3 linked regions of the Homo sapiens genome follow. The protein of the gene in region 1 interacts with the protein of each later gene in a biochemical or structural test. Each region holds a gene or a part of one and is shown on either strand. Other genes may lie near its edges.

Region 1 (7,028 bases):
GCAGTGATTCTGACAGTGAGGTTGACAAAAAGGTGACTACTGCTGCACCAAGTCATTTTGGTGATACTCAACAATATTGTCCATATCCCATTCTGAAGGATAGTAAAAGGTGTATTAACATCTTAAAATGAGGATCTAGCTGGGCGCGGTGGCTCATGCCTGTTATCCTACTTCTTTGGGAGGCCGAGGTGGCAGGATTGCTTGAGGCCAAGAGTTCAAGACCAACCAGGCTAACATAGCAAGAACCTGTCTCTTTAAAAAAATAAATAAATAAAAAATAAAAAATAAGAATGTGAATGGGTATTTCTGGAGGTACGGTTGGTCTCTGGACCACTTGACTAGAAGTGCCTAGGATGCTTTTTGCACATTCATACTCATAGGCCCTAAATCAGACTTAACAAGTCTTCTGTTGAGCATCATTAGGAACCCTAAAGTTGCAGAAACACTGCCTTGCATCCTAGGGTCATAGAATTCTAAGTAGGCCAAAGTCACTATTTGCCGTTATTTAGAAATTTACCAGATTTTTTTTTGTAAAATGTTAATTTTTTTTTTTAAAGACAGGGTCTTACTCTCTTGCCGAGGCTGGAGTGTGGTGGCACCATCATGGCTCACTGCAGCCTCGACCTCCTGGTCTCAAGCAGTCCTCCCACCTCTGCCTCCAGAGTAGCTGGGACTACAGGCATCATGCCTGGTTAATTAAAAAAAAAATGTTTTTGTAGGGACCAGGTATTGCTGTGTTGCTAAGGCTGGTCTCAAACTCCTGGCCTCAGGCAATTCTTCTGCCTCAGACTCCCAAAGTGCTGGGATTACAGGTGTGAGCCATCATGAGTGGCCATAAAATGTTAATTTTGACAGTTCTCTTAGTTACTGGTGTTTATTCTGCACATAAGGTTTTCTGAATTTTAGACTTGGTACATTTTTAAGTTTGTACTAAGTTTGTGCTCTGGTCCCTTCCATTTAATTAAATCAGCACGCAGTAAAGCTAACTTGAAACCCATTGACAAGATAGGCTTTTTCTGCATTAGATGACAGCTGCACCGTAATTGGTGAATTTCGCTAAATTGAGCATCTCAGTGGAGCATAACTGAGCGTCTCACTCTGCGGTCAAGTCTTCCGTGCAGAATTGTCTTTTATCGCATAGAACTTTACATATCTGAAGAGATATTTATATCCTAGAAATAGAATAAGTTGGTCGTGTTTTTCCTAATTAGTATATATCCTTTGTAAAATAGTAAGTAATGACTAGCACTGGTAGACCTGTGATTTCCGAAAGTTTATTCAAAAGAAGCAGGCTCCCTATCTTTTTTTTTTCCTCCTGAAGCTTAGCAATTTTAGCTAAAAGAAAAGGGGAGAGCGTATGGGAGATTGGAGAAGTTGCAACCTTAAAGTATAAATATAGAATATAACAACACATGGAAGGGTAAAATAAGGCTTCAAAGACTATACTTGAGTAAATTTCTTAATTTTAAAATTTGCACCCTATATAGTATTTGAGTATGTTGATGTAACACATGTGTATTGAGCTTTTATTTGCCAGACATGCACTATTCCACAGGGAATACTTAGAGCCTGATTTATAGAATAATTGCTTTCTGCATATTGAGCTAACTTTTTGTTTGTCCCAAATAGTAATATTACTCTTGTAAACACTTAACCTTGTATACCACATTTTTCATTTCATGTTTTACATGTATATAATATTTTTCCTAGCTTCATCTAATTTGGTAACATTCAATTAATTTAGTAACATTAAAATATTTATACTATTCCATCAAGAAGGAACATGACTGCCCTCTTCTGTTTGGGTTGGGTATTGTAGTGGTTTTTATGGGTTAGCTCTTTTTGAGAATGCGACTTTCTAATAAGCTTTTAAAATAATGCTGTTTTTAAAACAACGTTGTGATTTTTGAAAGCTAGTCTAACACATAGCTGTCTACAATGATTTTTTTTTTTTTTGTAATGAGGAAGTTCTTGAGTTGCTGGCTGTCAGTGCCCAGTGCAAAATAGCTCTCTAAAGATTTGCCTAATTGTAAATTCCTTTTTTTTTAATTTTTTATTTTGAGATGAAGTTTTGCTTTTGTTGCCCAGGCTGGAGTGTAATGGCGCGATCTCGGCTCACTGCAACCTTCGCGTCCCGGGTTCAAGCGATTCTCCTGCCTCAGCCTTCCGAGTAGCTGGGATTACAGGCGTGTGCCACCACGCCTGGCTAATTTTTTTTTTTTTTTTTTTTTTTGAGATGGAGTATCGCTCTGTTGCCCAGGCTGGAGTGCAATGGCACGATCTCGGCTCACTGCAACCTCAGCCTCCTGGATTCAAGCAGTTCTCTGCCTCAGCCTCCCTAGTAGCTGGGATTATAGGTGCCCACCACCACGCCTGGCTAACTTTTTTTGTATTTTTAGTGGAGATGGGGTTTCACCATGTGGCCAGGCTGGTCTCGAACTCCTGACCTCAAGTGATCCTCCCGCCTCGGACTCCCAAAGTGCTGGGATTACAGGTGTGAGCTACCGCGCCCGGCCCATAAATTCCTTAAGCCAGCATAAATTCCTTTTGGAATAGGCAGGACATAAATAAACATATCCTGGAAATGGAATAAGTTGGTTATATTCTTTTTAATTAGTATATCTGCTTCGTAAAATAAGTAACTGACTAGCCTTAGTAGACTGTGGTTTCCAGGTTTATTCAGAAGTAGCAAGATCCCTCCATTTTTTTTTCTACCAAAGAAATCGTATGTGGGATCCCAAACCACAAAATAACCGTTCCTGTGGTTAATACTACTATAATGCCTGAAGTGTCTTTTGGGATCCTGAGAACAGAGTTTGAAAACATTACTAGACAGAAGGATTGGTTAGATTCATAGTTTTGTTGTTGAGTGAAACTTGCTTATGTATATATTTATGATATTTTGGATGTAGTCTTTTGATTGTTTAAATCTTAAAAAGTAATGGGATCTTTTGACACTGGGGTATGTTTTATTTTTATGTGTGCAAATTTTAACCATATTCTTTTCTAGTTAAAGAGGAAAAAGCAAGTTGCTCCAGAAAAACCTGTAAAGAAACAAAAGACAGGTGAGACTTCGAGAGCCCTGTCATCTTCTAAACAGAGCAGCAGCAGCAGAGATGATAACATGTTTCAGGTAAAGTTGGCTATTTTTTTTTTTTTTTTTTTTGACATGGAGTCATGCTCTGTCACCCAGGCTGGAGTGCAGTGGCGCCATCTCGGCTCACTGCAACCTCAGCCTCCTGAGTTCAAGCAGTTCTCTGCCTCAGCCTCCCGAGTAGCTAGGATTACAGGCATCCGCCACCAGACCTGGCTAATTTTTGTATTTTTAGTAGAGATGGGGTTTCACCATCTTGGCCAGGCTGGTCTTGAACTCCTGACCTTGTGATCCAACTGCCTCAGCCTCCAAAAGTGCTGGGTTTACAGGTGTGAGCCACCATGCCTTGCCAAAGTTGGCTGTTTCTTTAGATTCAGAGGAATTATTATCTGGCTTGATCTGAAGAATGTTAAAAGTACTATGATCTGATAATTGCCTAATATGTATGTTACAATCTTCTTAACTAGGGACATTTATTAAAATAGAACAAACTAGTAAAAGTATTTTGTACGATGCTGGATTATTGTTAAAGTCTCTAAAGTCTAGTTTTGCTGTATTTAAACCAATGCAAATTTAATTGAGAACTGCACATTTTGAAAGCAACTTGGAGGAGGCAGGTCAAGTGTTGGGACAGTAAAGTATGAATAGATTATTATGGGACAGGAAGCAGCAATGTGACATGCCTAATTTTGGCCTGATGAGCAACAGAAAAGGGGAATGGGTTGAATAGATAAAGTGAAGGAAGTTCATTAGAGGGACTTGATGAAATCACCTAGAGAGGACTCGTATAGCTTTTTCTCTTGGGTTTCCTGTCTTGTTTTAGGGAGACTTGACACTGGCATCTTTGTACAAGAAGGATTTGTGAGGAAGGGATGTTGGGGAATAAATGAATGCAGGTGAGATTGCTTAGGTAATTGTAGGCTTTAATCTGTATGTGAGGTGATAAGGGCTTAGATGGTTTTTCCTAAAGAAGAAATTATGCCAATTACAAGATACAGGTTAGGAAGAATGGACCAGAGGAATTAGGCAGTCAGTGAAGATGTGGACTTGATTGTGGATGTGATTGAAAAAAAAAATGGTGTTGCTTCTGTAGCACCTGAAGGGCTTAGTTGGGAAATGTTCATGTGGGATTATCAGCATGGTTGACTAAAGCTGCCTACTGAAGTATTAAACAGAGGAAGAACAGGAAGCAGATGAGGGGATGTCTTGGGTTATATTCAGATAGAGAATGGAAGGAAAAAGAGGATGTAGGTTAAGAGAGAGGGTGAAGGAAAATTAGAAGAGTGCAGTAATGGGAGCAAGAAAAGGATGAGTGTTTCCAGGAGCTATAAGTATTAGTTGAAACCAAAAAGTTGGGTGGAACGAGACTACAATTTTTTTTTTGAGACAGGGTCTCTGCTCTGTCACCCAGGCTGGAGTGCAGTGGTGTGATCTCTGCTCACTGCAACTTCCGCTTCCTGGGCTCAAATGATCCTCCTGCCTCAGCCTCCTGAGTAACTGGGACTACAGGCAATGCTCCATGACGCCTGGCAAATTTTCTTTGTTGTTGGTAGAAACAGTATTGCCCAGGCTGGTCTTGAACTCCTGAGCTCAAGTGATGCGCCCACCTTGGCTTCTGAAAGTGCTGGGATTACAGGCGTGAGCCACCGTGACTGGCCAAGACTGTAGACATTTATATGACTAGAAAGTAAGGCTAACACATGTATATTTTGACCTGTTGATAACTTTGAAAGGTGGAGTGCCAAGATTAAGGTGAGAATGGGAAAATTTAAGTTTTTTTTTTCCTATTGCTTATTTTTGCCTTGTTATACTTCTAGGTAAAAAAGATAGACAAAGTGCAGATGAACTATTTAGTTCAGAACACACATTTTAGAGATTCTGTTCTGTTAAGAGGAGTTTTGTGAAAACTAGATCTAATTTTAGGAATTTTCTCACCAGAAAAACGGAGCTTCATTTCTTAAACCCTCATCTGGAAAGATTCCTAAGCCTCCTAAGGCTGACATTGCACCTTTTGAAAGCCTGCCTCTAGGAGGAACATAGGTCATCTTTTCTTTTTTTTTTTTTTGAGACGGAGTCTCGCTCTGTCACCAGGCTGGAGTGCAGTAGCACGAATCTCGGCTCACTGCAACCTCCGCCTCCTGGGTTCAAGAGATTCTCCTGCCTCAGTCTCCTGAGTAGCTGGGACTACAGGCATGCGCCACCACCCCCAGCCAATTTTTGTATTTTTAGTAGAGACGGGATTTCACCTGGTTGGCCAGGATGGTCTCGATCTCTTGACCTCGCCATCTGCCTGCCTTGGCCTCCCAAAGTGCTGGGATTACAGGTGTGAGCCACGGCGCCCAGCCTAGGCCTTATTTTCAGAGTGGCTTTCATGGATCTAGTAGTGTAGGCATTATGAAATAATATGATACTTAATTTCATTGCCATTACAGCTTGATGTACATCAAACATCAATACATAAGCAGTTCTCTAAATGTATTAAAGAGTTGTACCAAAGAAAAATCAATAGACTTATCTTTTAAAGTCTGAAGTGATTGGGGCAGAATCGTGACTAGAGAGAAGATACTAGAGATGCTTACTTCCTGGTTCCTTCAGCTCTGATTTTGAAGAACTTTCTTCCATAGGGATGTAGTCTACCTGAGGTGACATCTGTGATAGTAAAGAGACTGGAGAATTATCTCATAATTATTTAGTACCTGTGTCTTGAAAGGTCAGAATAGTTGAGGCAGGAAACTTTAATCCATATTTTTCTTCAGAGTTAGGCACAAAGGGTCAGTAATACTGCTTTAGTTTATTTGATGATTTAAGGATACTTGATACTTTTAAATTATTTAATTTAAAATGATTATAACTGGTCATTTTAATCTGGGGCAGGAGTCCATAGAATTGTTTTTTAATTTGAGTTTTCTTTTTTGTGTTTGAAGGAATTATTCATAACCTTTATCACAGGGGTCCCTCCTGCACAGGAGGTGAGCGGTGTGTGAGTGAACATTGCAGCCCGAGCTCTGCCTCCTGTCAGATCAGCAGCGGCATTAGATTCTCATAGGAGCGCGAACCCTATTGTGAACTGCGCATGCAAGGGATCTAGGTTGTGCGTTCCTTATTCCTTATGAGAATCTAATGCCTGATGGTGGGATAATTTTTATCCTGAAACGATCACCTTTCCCCTTCCCTACCTGCTGTGGAAAAATTGTCTTCCGTGAGACTGGTCCCTGGTGCCAAAAAGGTTAGGAACCACTGCTTTATCAGATCTTCAGAGGGGACAGGGAATCAAATTCGTATAAGAATCACAGTTCTTTATGATGTATATGCTATTTTTTGCTGCTAATCTCCAGATTTTGTGGATATAAAATATATTGTCATCTGATTTTATTTTTTTCCAATAAAATGTGATTTCAGTGATCTTTATTTTTTCTATCTTTAAGTAATATATCCCTATACTACTATCTCATCACTTGTTTAATTTTTGCTAATAAGAATTTGTCAGTTTTACTCTTTTTTTCCCCCCAAGGGAGAGGCAGCTGTTGGGCAGATTCCTTTTTTTTTTAAAAAAAAAAATGTTTTTGAGGTATAGTTTATGTCCAATAAAACGCACACATTTAAAAGCATACCTTGATAGGCTGTGGTAAATGTACACGCCTTTGTGGCCAGACCATTTTCATCACCCCAGGAAGTTCCTCTTGGCTTTACAGTCATTGCTCATGTCCTAGGTAATCACTGATCTTATTTCTACCACTATAGATTTATGTTGTCTCTTCTAGAACTTTGTATAAATGGATACATGCAGTCTATTTTTTGTGTCTGGCTTTTGCTCAGTATAATGTGTTGAGATTAGTTCTTGTTGCATATATCAGTAATTTTATTGCTGAGTAGTATTTTGTATGATAATACTACAACTTGTAAATCCATTCACCTTGGGTGGACATTGGGATTG
Region 2 (6,929 bases), on another chromosome or scaffold:
CCACCGCACCTGGCCAAAACAGATTGTTAATGATCACCAAGGAATATCCAACCAGAGGCTGATGCGTGAAATCAGGAATGTGCTAGGAATACAATATGCAGAAGAGCAGGCAGGGAGATTTTCACCAGGAGGGTAGAACCCCAAGACCAGGGATCCAGGAGCATTAATTTATTTAACAGTAGTTATTAGGGAGATTCAAGGAGGCAGGCTCATGCTTAACATGAGGGAAGACTGTGATGGGTACTGAACGTTGGGTACCGACATGGGTAAGGATGGTCCCCACTTTGAGAGATTGTGATACCAAGCTAGGATTTTGTAACCATTCATCTAACTAATATTTGTTGAGCAACTAACGAGTTATAGGTGCTGGGGATAAAAAAATGTCTCTGCCTTTCTGGAGCTTAAGTTCCTAAGTAGGGTAAATAAATAAAAATACCTAGCATGTTAGTAATAAATGTTAGAGACAGAAACAGCAGGGAAGGGCATTAGGATTGGACGAAAATGGGAGCAGAAACAGCAGGGAAGGGCATTAGGATTGGACGAAAATGGGAGCGGGTTCCAAATGTGATCTAGGCTCCAAAAGAAGGCAGGAAGGAGCCCAGCTCAAGTCTCAAGTTCTCTTGTTCACCTCCTTCCCTTCTCAGCATGAAGGGAAAACCTCCCTGGCTCAAGCTGTTGATGCCTATAATGAGTAAGACACTATTCCAGTTATCAGAACCAGAACAAGAGGTCAGAGTCCAACCGGCAGCAAGAGTAGATGATGCTGGCTGGACTCGGTGGCTTACACAGGTAATCCCAGCACTTTGGGAGGCCGAGGCGGGTGGATCACCTCAGGTCAGGAGTTCGAGACTAGCCTGACCAACATAGTGAAACCCCATCTCTACTAAAATACAAAAATTAGCTGGGCGTCCTAGCGGGTGCCTGTAATCTCAGCTACTCGGGAGGCTGAGGCAGGAGAATTGCTTGAACCCAGGAGGCAGAGGTTCCAGTGAGCCAAGATCTTGCCACTGCATTCTAGCCTGGGCGACAGAGCAAGACTCCCAGGCGGGGTGGCTCACACCTGTAATCCTAGCACTTTGGGAGGCCCAGGCAGGTGGATCATCTGAGGTCAAGAGTTCAAGACCAGCCTGGCCAACATGGTGAAACACCATCTCTACTAAAAATACAAAAATTAGCCAGACAAGGTGGCACGTGCCTGTAATCCTAGCTACTCGGGAGGCTGAGGCAGGAGAATCACTTGAACCCGGGAGGTGGAGGTTGCAGTGAGCCGAGATCGCACCTTTGCATTCCAGCCTGGGTGACAGAGCAAGACTCCATGTCAAAAAAAAAAATAATATATATATATATATATAATTGGCCAGGTGTGGTGGCTCACGCCTGTAATCCCAGAACTTTGGGAAGCCGAGGCAGGCGGATCACCTGAGGTTGGGAGTTCGAGACCAGCCTGACCAACATGGAGAAACCCCCGTCTCTAACTAAAAATACAAAATTAGCTTGGCGTGGTGGCACATGCCTGTAATCCCAGCTACTCGGGAGGCTGAGGCAGGAGAATTGCTTGAACCCGGGAGGCGGAGGTTGCGGTGAGCCGAGATCGTGCTATTGCACTCCAGCCTGGGCAAAAAGAGCCAAATTCTGTCTCAAAAAAAAAAAAAAAAAAAAAAAGAAAGAAATCTCTCTAGAGAAAATACTATTAAGAACATATGATAATTAAAATAAAAAAATTGATGAGTTAAATATGCAGGAAAAAAACCATATAAGAAAAGCAGAACTCATTCTCATTTCAGAGTTTTTATCTTGCAGAAGATCCTAAAGTTTGGATACAGCAAAGTAAAATACAGACTTTTGAAAAACAGTTAGGAATTCAAGTTCATAGCAACAGCTTCCCTCAAGAAAATTTTCAATTGATTTGTAATTTGGCCTATGAATTTGACCTGTGGCCTTCATGTCATGATAATTTGGGTCACTCTGAATATGCCATCCCTTGAACAAGGGCCTCTGCTAATTTTAAATGAATGCAGCTGCCCATTCGCCATTCTTCTATTTGCATCACAATATGTGGGAATAAATTTGCAATTAATAAGACATTTCCAGTAAGCAGTCAGATTGAGGAAATGAAGGACATTTAGTAAGTTTAACAAGAGACATTTCATTTTTGCCTTTTTGGACCTAAAAAAGGGAAAGAAAACAAGTTTATGTCTTTGACAACCTTGGTAGAGGCCTGAATTGTACCCTGGGCTACAGCATCTAAAAAAGCCATGTGACCTCAAACTTGATTTTAGTTAAACAAATAAAATATATATAGAAAAGTTTGTACCAGTCCTAAAAATGTCGATCTTCCTTTCCTCCCTCCCTCCCTCCCTTCCTTCCTGTCTCTTTGGTTCAATGAAAATGAATACTTTTCAGGTTTGATTCATGGAGAGGTGTTACATTTGAAATTGCCTCATTGAAACTTTTGGTGGTCGAGCACCTTAGGGTCTTCATTTCATCTTGCATCGGAGACTGCATTAATTAGTAATATATTGTCCAGATAGAGGGAAACAGAGGTCCTACGTGGGTATACCAGGAAATGAAGAGTCTGGAAGCCCTGCCCTAAGAGAAACAAATAAAGGAACTTCAAAGAGAAGGAAGTGAGGTACCCTGAGGAGAAGCTGGGATGTCTTAACAACTGCTTTGGGATTTTGAGCTTGCCCTTTTCACTGTGTAGAGTGTTCCTTGCCCTACTTTCCACCTGTTGAAGTTTTCCTCATTCTCCAAGGTCAGACTGAATACATCTACTGTGAAAAGTTTCTAGAACCTCTTGGGATCCATCTTCCTACTGGCAAACCCCCATAGCACTTGCTACTTATGTTGTAATACCAAGCAATAGTCAGACTTATCTAGGTCAAGTTAAGTAGGGGCTTGAACGCCACACTAAGGGGTTTAAGCTTTAAGCTTGTAGTCATGGGGAGCCACTATGCTTCTGAGGACAGGTGTGACTTACGACTGACGTTTAGGAAGGTATCAAAGGCAGACTGAGAAGCTCTTTCAGGTGTGAAAGGGGGTGGAATTACTCTCTCTCTGTTCTTTTTTGTTGTTTTTGTTTTTGTTAGCACATGACTATGGGCTAGGCATTCCGCTTGGTTATCCCGCTTCATAGACGTGAGCCCGGTTACTCCGACACACCGTGGCCCCAGGCAGCCTCCCCGTCCTCACCACCTTTTCTTCTGTCATCTGAGGGTAATTCCTCCCCTGCAGTCGTGCTTTCCGGGCTCAGCAATGACCTGCTACCTGCCACGTCTAGGGATCTGTCCCCTCAGTCCTCACGCTCACGCTTTCTGAGTCCATAACCTCCTTCCTGAAACGTTTTCTTCTCACTTCTCCCAAACTGACTGCATTCCCCCTCCGGTAGTTTGAAATTTGGAAGACTTTTTTTTTTTTTTTTTTTTTTTACCGCAGACGCTTAAAACGAAGCTTAATTAGTCAAGGACAGCTATGGGTGGAGACTTGAAGAGATCTGAAGGGTATCTTGGAGCGCTTTAGACTTGAGAGGCCGGTGACAATAGCTCTAAAGAGACCCGTCAAAGCCTGCGGATTCTTCTTTTAACAGCTCTATTCTCATGCATGCACGCCAGGGCTGGGGGGAACTTTTGTTGTTTGTTTGTAATAGAAATCGAGAAAGGGAGTGGGGCCCGCCTCTTTTCTGACCTAAGGGCAGGAGTGAGGGGCCGGGAGGATTACGGGCGGCTCCCCCTAGACGCGCCCCCAGGCGAGCTGGAGACTGGGGCACTCCTTGCTTGGTAGAGGGGCGGGGCGCGCCTAGCGGCCACGCGCGCGGGCGTCGGAGGGGGCGTGTCTCGCGGGCGCGCGCGGGCGTCGGAGGGGGCGTGTCCCGCGGGCGGTGGCGGCGGCGGCGGCGCGGACTGGGTGCGCGGCGCAGCGTCCTGTGTTGGAATGTGCGGCTGCCGCGAGCTCGCGGCGCAGCAGCGGAGCGAGCGCCGCCGAGGCCCGGGGCCCCAGACCCTGGCGGCGGCTGCCGCAGCCGAGACGGCAGGGCGAGGCCCGGAGGCCTGAGCACCCTCTGCAGCCCCACTCCTGGGCCTTCTTGGTCCACGACGGCCCCAGCACCCAACTTTACCACCCTCCCCCACCTCTCCCCCGAAACTCCAGCAACAAAGAAAAGTAGTCGGAGAAGGAGCGGCGACTCAGGGTCGCCCGCCCCTCCTCACCGAGGAAGGCCGGTAAGTGGGGCGCTGGGCTGGGGGCTCGGTCAGGGTGGGGGAGGGCCGCCCGGGCGGCGGCAGTGGCGGGACGGGGAGGGCGCGGAAGGACGCGGAGTCAGGCGCTGTCCAGGGCTGATTTGCAGATACTGTGGCTCCGGCGGCGGCGGCCCCGCCGGGCGGGGGCTGGCGGCCGAGCAGGATCGGGTTACACAGCAGCCGCCCGGGGGCTGGGGGCGTTTGTTGGGAGCAGCGCGTCGCCTGGACCCCCTCCCCACTGGAGGCTGGGACGCCGCCTCCGCGCTGGCCCGGACGCTCCACCGAGTCAGGTCCTTTGAGGCCAAGGAGCGGAGCTGCTCGGGCCCGTAGTCCTGAAACTTCCTCTGCTTCCTCCTCCTGCCCCCGGGTCCCACCGCAGCCCCGCGCCGGCCCGCGGCCCTCCTGGCCCCCTCCCCCAGGGCCTCTCCCTGTCGCCGGAAGGCGCCGTTGAGTGCGGCCGGGCGGGTTGAGTCAGCCCCGGGGCCCGGGCGGTTCCGCCTGCGGGGCTGGACAGCGATTTCTGCGCTTCAGCCGTCCGGCGCCGCTGGCCCCCGCGTCCGGCCACCCGACCGCTGGAGCTGGCGGGGCTGGGGCGCGCGTCCTGCCGGGCGCCGTGGGGGAGTGAAGTTCGCAAACTTCCGGGGCGCGGGGGTGGCGGCTGGCCCGTGTGGGGGCCCCCTCCGGCGCTCGGAGCCCGACGCCTCGCGAGGGCGCCCGCGGAGCCTCCCCGGCCCTGGGCGTTGGGCGAGCCCCGGGGCGGTCGGAGGGGCCCGGGGGCGGTCGGAGAAGCCCGGACGCCGGCTGCGCGGTAACTTTCCGTCCTCTCCCGGGACGGGGGCCCTAGGGCTGGGGAGGGGGCTGCCTGGACTCGGGGAGGACTGGTTCCGGCCAAACAGCGCCTCGAGCTTGATCCCCTCCCCCGTTTTAGTGTTGGAGAGCGCAGGAAAAGGCTCAGGACGAGTGTCGGGGCGACTCCCGCGAGTTGGTGTGTAAATGTGTGCAGTGAGCGGGCCGAGGCGAGAGGAAGCGAGAGCGCCCGAGTTTGCAAAGAGCTGCTTTGTGTTTGGTATTTTGAGAAAATGGCCGAATGCCTATTTCAGTTAGGAATGCCGCCGCCGAGGCAGGCGCTGGTGGCAGCAGCACGGAGGAATTCGTGCAGCACGTTGGGCTTTCGGGCTGTGCCTGGACGGTCTTCCTAACAATCGTTAAAATTCCATTTGGGGTGGCAGTTAGGGGTTAGGGAGCAATTAGAAAAGTCGATGTTGGGCCAAATTACCCAATAGCTTGGGCTGTTCAGCCCCGGGACAGCCTTCGCCCTCTGTTTTCTGTGATGGCATTTGCTTCCAACTTTTGTTGGTACGTAGAACTAAACCGGTTTGTGTTTATACACTTGGGTGAAGCGGGTTACTTTTTGTATTTTCGGTTTAACTTTATTTTCTTAGAACTTCTTACTTTTTTTAATTTGCGAGTGAACACTTCGTTTGAGAATGGCACCTTTTAGATTGAGAAGTAACGTAGCATCTAGAAAGCCCAACTTGTTTTGAAGAAGGTGATCTTGTAATGGCTTCCACTAGGCAAGTAGGCCAAGTCAAGCACAATGCAAGAAAGTTGCTGATTGTCGAGTTGAGTTGCACGATGATTTTATTCGTATTGAAAAGCTTGGAATTCAGTGTTGTGGAACTTCAGCCTGCAGAAAAATAAGCTTATTAATTTTTATTTGTGAAGTTTTGAATAAATCAAACTTCCTTTTTCACAAGAAAAGGGGTCCATAAATGTTTTTTCTTTTAAGCCTGTGGAGTTGTCGAAAAATTAAGGGGCTGACTGCTACTTTTTCACAGTAGTTTATTCTTTTGGAGTTAGTTGAGTTCATGCGAAATCCAATTAAGTTGAACAATTATTACAGGCTTGTACTTTCCAGATGTGTTTGTGTACTTAATAAATGCACTGAATGGCTTGTGGATTTCTGGGCTTTCTGATTCAGACCATTGAACTGTTGAAGGGGGGAAAAGTTGGGAGGACAATAATTTACTACTCATGTTTTGAATTTTTAAAATAATTTTAACAGTAAAAATGAAGGTTACTTTTTATCCCCACCAGAACAATTAAAAGTGCTTGAGGAGGCACCACATGCCAGTGGCTGAATGATGAATGAGTTGTGCAAACAATTGGTAGAATTGTTTTATAGGGATAGTAGAAATTTTTTTTTGGTGATTGCAGTAGACTATTGGGAATTAACAACTATTTTAAAGATTTGTTTTTAATAGGCGATGAAGTTTACTGAGTTATAAAGATCATACTGGAAAATTTTTAAGTTATGAAGAATTACAGCGATGTGGTTTTAAGCCAGTAACAGTAGTGTTTAAACTGGTGCTCTTGTTTTGTTTTGTTTTTAATTCAGAATACAGTTATGGCCACCCAGGTAATGGGGCAGTCTTCTGGAGGAGGAGGGCTGTTTACCAGCAGTGGCAACATTGGAATGGCCCTGCCTAACGACATGTATGACTTGCATGACCTTTCCAAAGCTGAACTGGCCGCACCTCAGCTTATTATGCTGGCAAATGTGGCCTTAACTGGGGAAGTAAATGGCAGCTGCTGTGATTACCTGGTCGGTGAAGAAAGACAGATGGCAGAACTGATGCCGGTTGGGGATAACAACTTTTCAGATAGTGAAGAAGGAGAAGGACTTGAAGAGTC
Region 3 (7,028 bases), on another chromosome or scaffold:
TCTTTGTGAGAAGGAAATTTCCATTCATTTCCTTATCTGGGAAGTGGGGATTCTAATGTCTGCCTCCCAAGGTTTTTGTGAGAATTAAAGTAGAGAATGTAGGTAAAATGATAGCAAGTTTCCTGATAAGTAGTGGTAGGGATGAGTTAGTACCTTCCGTCCTGGAAACCACCTGTGGGCCCATCTTGAATGATCAGTGTTATGTTAAATTCATATATTCTTTTCCACACTTTGATTAGAATAGTTAAAAAGCCACAGTCTAAATATTCTTGGGTGATAGGATATTGCAAAATTTTCCAAGGGTCTAAAATAGTGGTCTGCAAACTATGGCCTCTGTGCCAAATCAGGCCTGCCACTCCATTTGTAAATAAAGTTTTATTGGAACACAGCTCTGTCTATCATTTGAATATTGTCTAGGGCTGCTTTTGCAGAGTTGAGTAGTTGTGACAGAGACTGTGCAGCATACAAAGCCTAAAATATTTTCTCTCTGGCTTATAATAGAAAAACATTGCCAACCTCTGGTCTGAGATGATTTGCTTGGTTCTTCAGGCATTCATTTCCTTAAGATACTCAGTATCAGGCCGGGTGCGGTGGCGGGCGCCTGTAATCCCAGCACTTTGGGAGGCCAAGGCGGGCAGATCACGAGGTCAGGAGATCGAGACCATCCTGGCTAACATGGTGAAACCCCGTCTCTACTAAAAATACAAAAAAATTAGCTGGGGTTGTGGTGGCAGGCCCCTGTAGTCCCAGCTACTCGGGAGGCTGAGGCAGGAGAATGGCATGAACCCGGGAGGCGGAGCTTACAGTGAGCCGAGATCGTGCCACTGCACTCCAGCCTGGGGTACAGAGCGAGACTCCGCCTCAAAAAAAAAAAAAAAAAAAAAAAAGATACTCAGTATCCTGGGGTTGTACATTGCCAACACCAATGGGAAATAAAACTTGCAGCCAATTCATTAAATAATTTGTACAATGCCCCAAACTGATTTGATTGAATTTCTTCCTTAAAAGTGATAGAACTGTGTATAATAAACTGAACTCCATTTGTTAGAAAGTGAACAAATTGGACAGTTGCTTTTTATTGTTGTTGTTTGTATTAGGGAACAATCTACATGCTAATGAAAGGCAGGCTTGACTGATTTTCTTTGGACTGGCTGATTGTCTTGGTGTCCTGTGGACTTGGCCTTGGAACAGGAAATAATTCGTATCAGATTATTATGTCATGGATATGCCTTTGCTTTCAGACAACTTGAACAGAGCAGAGATTTAGCAAACAGAAAAATTAAGGACTTAAAATTCTCATCAACATAGAACTCTGCTCTTCAGATGTACTCTAGGGTTCCACTAAAGAGCCAATATTGTTTGGGAGGCAGTTAAAGATAAGTAAAATGTGTACTATGCATATAATTTTTGGAAGCCTATCTCCTACATAAATTTAAGCACAACTTACAATGAGAGGTAATTTAGGTTTCTGGACAACCTCTAATATTTCTATTCTATGTTACAACCTTTGCTTATTTAATAAGCCTAGTGAGCACCTTTACTTCTTACCAAGTTGATTCCATTGATTCAGCAGTTCTTTTTTTGAGATAGAGTCTTGCTCTGTCACCCAGGCTGCAATGTAGTGGTGCAAGATCAGCTCACTGCAACCTCTGCCTCCAAATTCAAGTGATTCTCCTGCCTCAGCCTCCTGTGTAGCTGAGATTATAGGCACATGCCACAATGCCCAGCTAATTTTGCATTTTCATTGGAGATGGAGTTTCACTATGTTGGCCAGGCTGGTCTCGAACTCCTGACCTCGAGTGATCCACCTGCCTTGGCCTCCCAAAGTGCTGGGATTACAGGTGTGAACCACCACGCCTGGCCAATTAAGCAGTTCTTGCTGTTAAGGGCAAGTAGAATCCAAAAGAGAGACACAAATTCACGTGCACTGTCTGGAGGTGAAATAAAGGACAAACATCAACCAAATACACAGATTTAATTGGTAAAAAAGCAGATGATGTTCTTGATGGATATTTTACTTCCTGCCCCTTATATTTATTTACTAAAGAAAATGCCAGATTTGTCCCCAAAGTTACTGACTCAGAAGTTTTGAAAGCTCTCTCCCAATTCACACTTGGGATTCTGTTCTTTCATGAGGAACCAAAAAAAAAAAAAAAAAAAATCAAGTTTGCCTACAGCTGTTCATTAAATATGTGGACATTTAATTCATAAAGAAGTCTTATAAATATTTGCTTTTAACTTTCCCATTACAAAGTGTTTTTTCCCCCTTTGACATCTTTCTAAAGTAGTTTATCTTCCCACTTAATGAAGATGTCCACCTATTTCTTATTCTGAGCCAACCAAACCAAAGTTGGCTAATTGATTATGAACATTAACATAATTCTCACCTTTATGAAATGCTTAATAACACTCTAGTTTTCTCATTTTTGTAGAACTGCTTGACAACTAAGTGAGCCTACCTGGGATGGGGAGGCCTTCTCTGAAACCCTCTTGTCCCGCTTGTGTGATACTGGGGACAAGCACTTGTAGGCAGGAGCCAGGGGTTTTACTTTCCATTCTACAGATAATTAGATGAGAGACCTTAAGCAAGCCACCTAACCACTTTGGGTCTCAAATGTTCTAGTGCTGGAATGGAACTTGCCTTTTCCTGGCTAATTTTCCTGGAGATTGAACTTGATTGAGGTTCTTTGCCAGCTCTAATTGCTGAGTTTTCCTGAGTGTTTATACAAAAAATAAATTAAAGTTTAAAATCAGAAGTCCTTAATTTAATAGATGGGATTCTTCTATCTGCTTAGGGCAGTGTTTTTATACCTTGGCTACACACTGGAATGCTCTGAGGAGATTTAAGAAACACAGATGCCTGGATCTCAACCTAGAGCTTCTGATTAAATTGTCTTGGGCATTGAAGGAGAGCTGCAAATGGCTCCCAGGTGAGAAGGCTGAGAACTGCTGACCTGGAGGTTGAAATGGATGGCTTCTAATAAACCTTTGGGCATTGCTAAGAGCAGAAGAATGCTCAATCCTTTTAACAGTGATAAACAAACATCTCTGGGGAATGGAGAACTTATTTGGTGCTATGCAGTATACAAAATGTTCTGTTGGATCAGTTTGGATTACATTTGATTGCTGGTGAAGAGACCTGAAATAACGTAGATTTAAGTAAGACAGTGGTGTCCTTTCTCTCACATAAAAGAAGTCCACAGTAGGGTGTTCAGGATCTTATGGAGTCTCACAGTGCCAACATCATCCCAGGCTCCTTTTTCCTTTCTAATCTGCCATCCTTGGCATGTGGCTCTTGTCCTCAAGATTTTTTTCATAGTTGCCATTGTAACTCCAGCCATTACATCTGTGAGCATCACATCTTCGGACAAGCAAGAAGAAGAAAAAGGAATAGCAAAAGATCATGCCTCCTGATCGCTGCCCCTTCTCCCTCCCAACACACAACTTCTGCTGACATCTGATGCCATTTCTATCTACAAGGGAGAATAGCATAATTGTTTAGCTGGGCACATTGCCACCCTCCATAATGCAGGGGCTGTTAGAAAGGAAGGGAAGGTGGATGTTGAGTGTAACAACTGCCAGTCTTCACTATGCTTTGAGTGCATTATCTCATTTAATCCTCATAAAAACTCCATGAAGCAGATTCTGTTGTAAGGTTCATTTTATAGATGAGGAAACTGAATCATGAAGATTAAGTTAGTAACTCTCCTACAAAGCAAAATTCATGTGAACAGACCTCAAGTGTTGGCCTGCTAAGCTGTCCTGTCTCCCTGCCACAGTGCCTGTCTCTCTCACATTGCTTAGGAAGTATTCTTGGTAAAAGCACAGGCCTTCCATGTCAGATAAGGGACCAATGGCAAAAAAAAGCCCTGCAGATGGTAGTTCATACCATGAGAACCCATTTTGTTTAACATTTACTTCAGCTTACCTGTTGAAGAAAACAAGGTCTCTGCTTGCTGCTGGGCCTCTTCTGCGGGACAGTTTGAAGATATTTTAGCTATAATAAAAGGCTCAGAGAAGGATCTAGAGTTTGCCCCCAAATAACCCAGCCCTACTCTTTTCTGGGCAGTTTTAGTAGAGAGCCCGATGTAGCAGGCAGCCTTTGCTGGGAGCCAAGGCTTCTGCCTCCGTGGCACTTCCTTGATTCTGAACTTTCTAGACTTTGGAAAAGTCAGGCTGCTCCTTCATCTCTCTCTCTCTCTCTCTCTGTGTGTGTGTGTGTGTGTGTGTGTGTGTGTGTGTGTGTGTATTTGTGTGTGTTTAGGTGGGGTGTGGAGAGTAAGATGTAGAGAGTAGGGTTTAACTTTGAGTTAGAGAGTGACACTTCTGTTCTTTCTTTGCCTTTAGTAGTTAAAGCTTAGCTTCTGGGGCAGGCAGATCTGAGTTTGAGTCCTAGGTTTATGCCTTACTGGTTGTGTGACACTGGTAAGTCCTTTTTCCTCCTTCTGCCACCATTTCTTTATAGGCATGCACCAGAGGTGTGACTCTTACCTTATGGGATTGTGGTAGGGGTTTTCTGCTGTGCTTGGCATTAAGTAAACACTCAATAAATATTAGTTGCTATTATTATTTTCCCATTCTGTCACAATCTACCTCTGAAGACAAAGGTTATGCCGGCTAATTTTAGATTACAATTTGTATGTCCTCTGAGTTCTGAATTTCTTGTGAAATGGCAGGGCACACATCTCCAGTCTTGTAACTTGTGGTGGGTTAGTGATCATGGTTACTTCTGATGATTAATCTGACCATTCTGTGATCAAACTTGGAACTCGCGTCACAATTTTCCTACCGACCTTGTAAGGTAGGGTGGCGGCAAGACTTGTACTGACTGGCAAACTCGTGTTTGTTTTTTTAATTCACAAGATTGGACTGAGTGTTTGTAATCTAGTTGTGAGCAGAATGACACTTGAAATATGCAAGAAATAGATACCGAAAACTGAAACAACAATGTGTGGCCTCCTTTTCTTAGTAACAGTTTCATTAGTACCACTTTCTGGGAAGAGCTGGTCACCAAAAGATTATAAACCAGAATCATTCTCAGACCAGGTGCTGGGACAAAAAAGGATTTGACCAGTCTTAAACTGAATTACTTTTTAATGCACTAGAAAGAGCCATACATTTCATTGGAAGACAGCAAGCATACAGGACATTGTTAAAACTTTCCAGGACTAGGAAACGCTGAGGTGACAGAAAGGAAAGAAAAGAAGAGAGGCAAGAGAGTTGACAATAGAAGCAAGTCTTAATGTTGGATGAAAGGTACACCAATTCAGGAAGGAAAGGTATAGAAGGAAAATCAACCATCTATTCATCATCCCATGCAGGTATGCATCCCTCTAAGCATCCATCCAATAATGGAATTATTTCCAGCTAGAGAAACCAACCAATGAAATAAATTATCTTCAGCAGAAGGTGGGGATGATGGAATCAGGGAAGGTGTCATGGAACATATAGCATTGGGTTTGGATCCTGAAGAATAGATGGTAATCAGACTTCTTGCTTAGATCCTGGGGTGTGCAGATGCATCTTAGGACATAAAATATTAGCACTGGGAAGAAAATCCAAGGATTTTAGGCTGATGTCTATAACATTTTTGCTACAAACTCCCTTATTCAAACCAAATCTACTGTAGAACTTCAGTATAAGAATAAAAATCGTGCGGTTTTGGGGGGCTATCTGGAGCTCTGATTGCTCATGTTCCCCCACATTTCCCTGCCATTCTCACTCTGTTGGCACCTGCAGGCACCATAACTATATTCCAGGGTTCTTCAGGTCACAGCTGGATCCCCCTGACCTGGCCAATCTACCCCTCTTTTTAGCAAGATCCCTGCTAGCTGGTCACAGAGAGTGGCAGTGAGTGGCTGTGAAACATATTGCATTGGTCTTCATCAAGCTCTGAAGCTGTGAAGACTATGTGTTCGGTCTTTGTGGGTCTCTTGTGAATAAAGAGGAGGTAAATTCCTAAAAAACTGACCAAGTGACTTCTTTCTCAGGCTTGATACTAACAACCACTCCCCTTCTCCAATGTCTTTCATAAAGGAATCCCTTGCATCATGAGGGCCATTGGTTAGCAAAGCTGAACATTATCCAGAAAGCTCCTCTTGACCAGCTGTGATGTTTCTCATGAATCCATTGTTAGGGCTACTCTCACTTGCGAAGGCTACACCCCAGGCCACCATGAGCCTTGGAACTTGGGCAGTTGGGTCTGACCCCAAATACAAAACTAATGCTGGGATCTGAAGAGTCCATTCTCCAAGAAAGTGGTCCTTACATGATGGTCTCAGGAAAAGTTAAGTTTTTTCAATAAAGCTCTTTAGTCTTGAAAAGCCAAAATTAGATATTGCTTGAATCAAGGAACAAAAAATCGGATATCCATCTGCCTCCTCCAGCTGCCTAACCACAGGTTATTCCCATCCTAGCTCAGATGGGCAATTCTAGATTCAAGCCTTGATCTAATAAGGAAAGAGACAGCCCTTTCCTCTGCTCCATCCCTCACTATGGTACTGCCTTGCTATAGAATTGGGGTGGCCACTGGGGTAGGTGGACTCTCCTCATTCACCTTCTGGTCTGGGACGGTAGGTCTGGAGCTCTGTTTAGGCCCTTTCTCTTTCCTGATGCCCCACTCTCAGCAAATTTGAGGCAATGCCAAATATGTAATCCAGGAATCTGCTTTGCTCTACAAGGTGATAAAACTCCCATCTATGGGCACTGAAGAGCCCTCCCTTGCCCATTGCCACATTTCTATTCCATATGCGATATGTGCTCCTAGGTTTCTAGCCCCCTTGAGGGAGTATCTACAACATAGCCTCAGCCATGGCTGTGTCCCTGGCCTTTAGGAGATACATATAGGTTCCTTAAGGGGCTGCATCTGAGGTCAGGACAAGGGAATGCCATCATACTCTGTCTGCAACCTAATCGCTGCCATTCAAAAATATCCAAGGTTTTTCATTTCTGAAGTCATACTTTAAAAACTCACATCTGCTGCAAACCTAATCCTCTGGTGACTTCTAAAGAAAGAAGTCTTCTGCTCA

The links. Proteins that work in one complex are often made in the same cells at the same time.
Region 2: the proteins of SUB1 (region 1) and REST form a complex in vitro, tested with the Homo sapiens proteins (one study listed by BioGRID).
Region 3: the proteins of SUB1 (region 1) and POU2AF1 form a complex in vitro, tested with the Homo sapiens proteins (one study listed by BioGRID).

Annotation. Positions count from the first base shown.
Region 1 is NC_000005.10:32,588,553-32,595,580, forward strand, and holds part of SUB1 (activated RNA polymerase II transcriptional coactivator p15), read left to right. Parts: coding exon 1-32; intron 33-3,010; coding exon 3,011-3,133; intron 3,134-7,028.
Region 2 is NC_000004.12:56,903,997-56,910,925, forward strand, and holds the start of REST (RE1-silencing transcription factor), read left to right. Parts: upstream 1-3,903; 5' UTR 3,904-4,217; intron 4,218-4,913; exon of another isoform or gene 4,914-5,591; intron 5,592-6,633; 5' UTR 6,634-6,642; coding exon 6,643-6,929. UniProt on the Homo sapiens protein: Transcriptional repressor which binds neuron-restrictive silencer element (NRSE) and represses neuronal gene transcription in non-neuronal cells.
Region 3 is NC_000011.10:111,369,250-111,376,277, reverse strand, and holds part of POU2AF1 (POU domain class 2-associating factor 1), read left to right. Parts: intron 1-7,028. UniProt on the Homo sapiens protein: Transcriptional coactivator that specifically associates with either POU2F1/OCT1 or POU2F2/OCT2. It boosts the POU2F1/OCT1 mediated promoter activity and to a lesser extent, that of POU2F2/OCT2. It recognizes the POU domains of POU2F1/OCT1 and POU2F2/OCT2.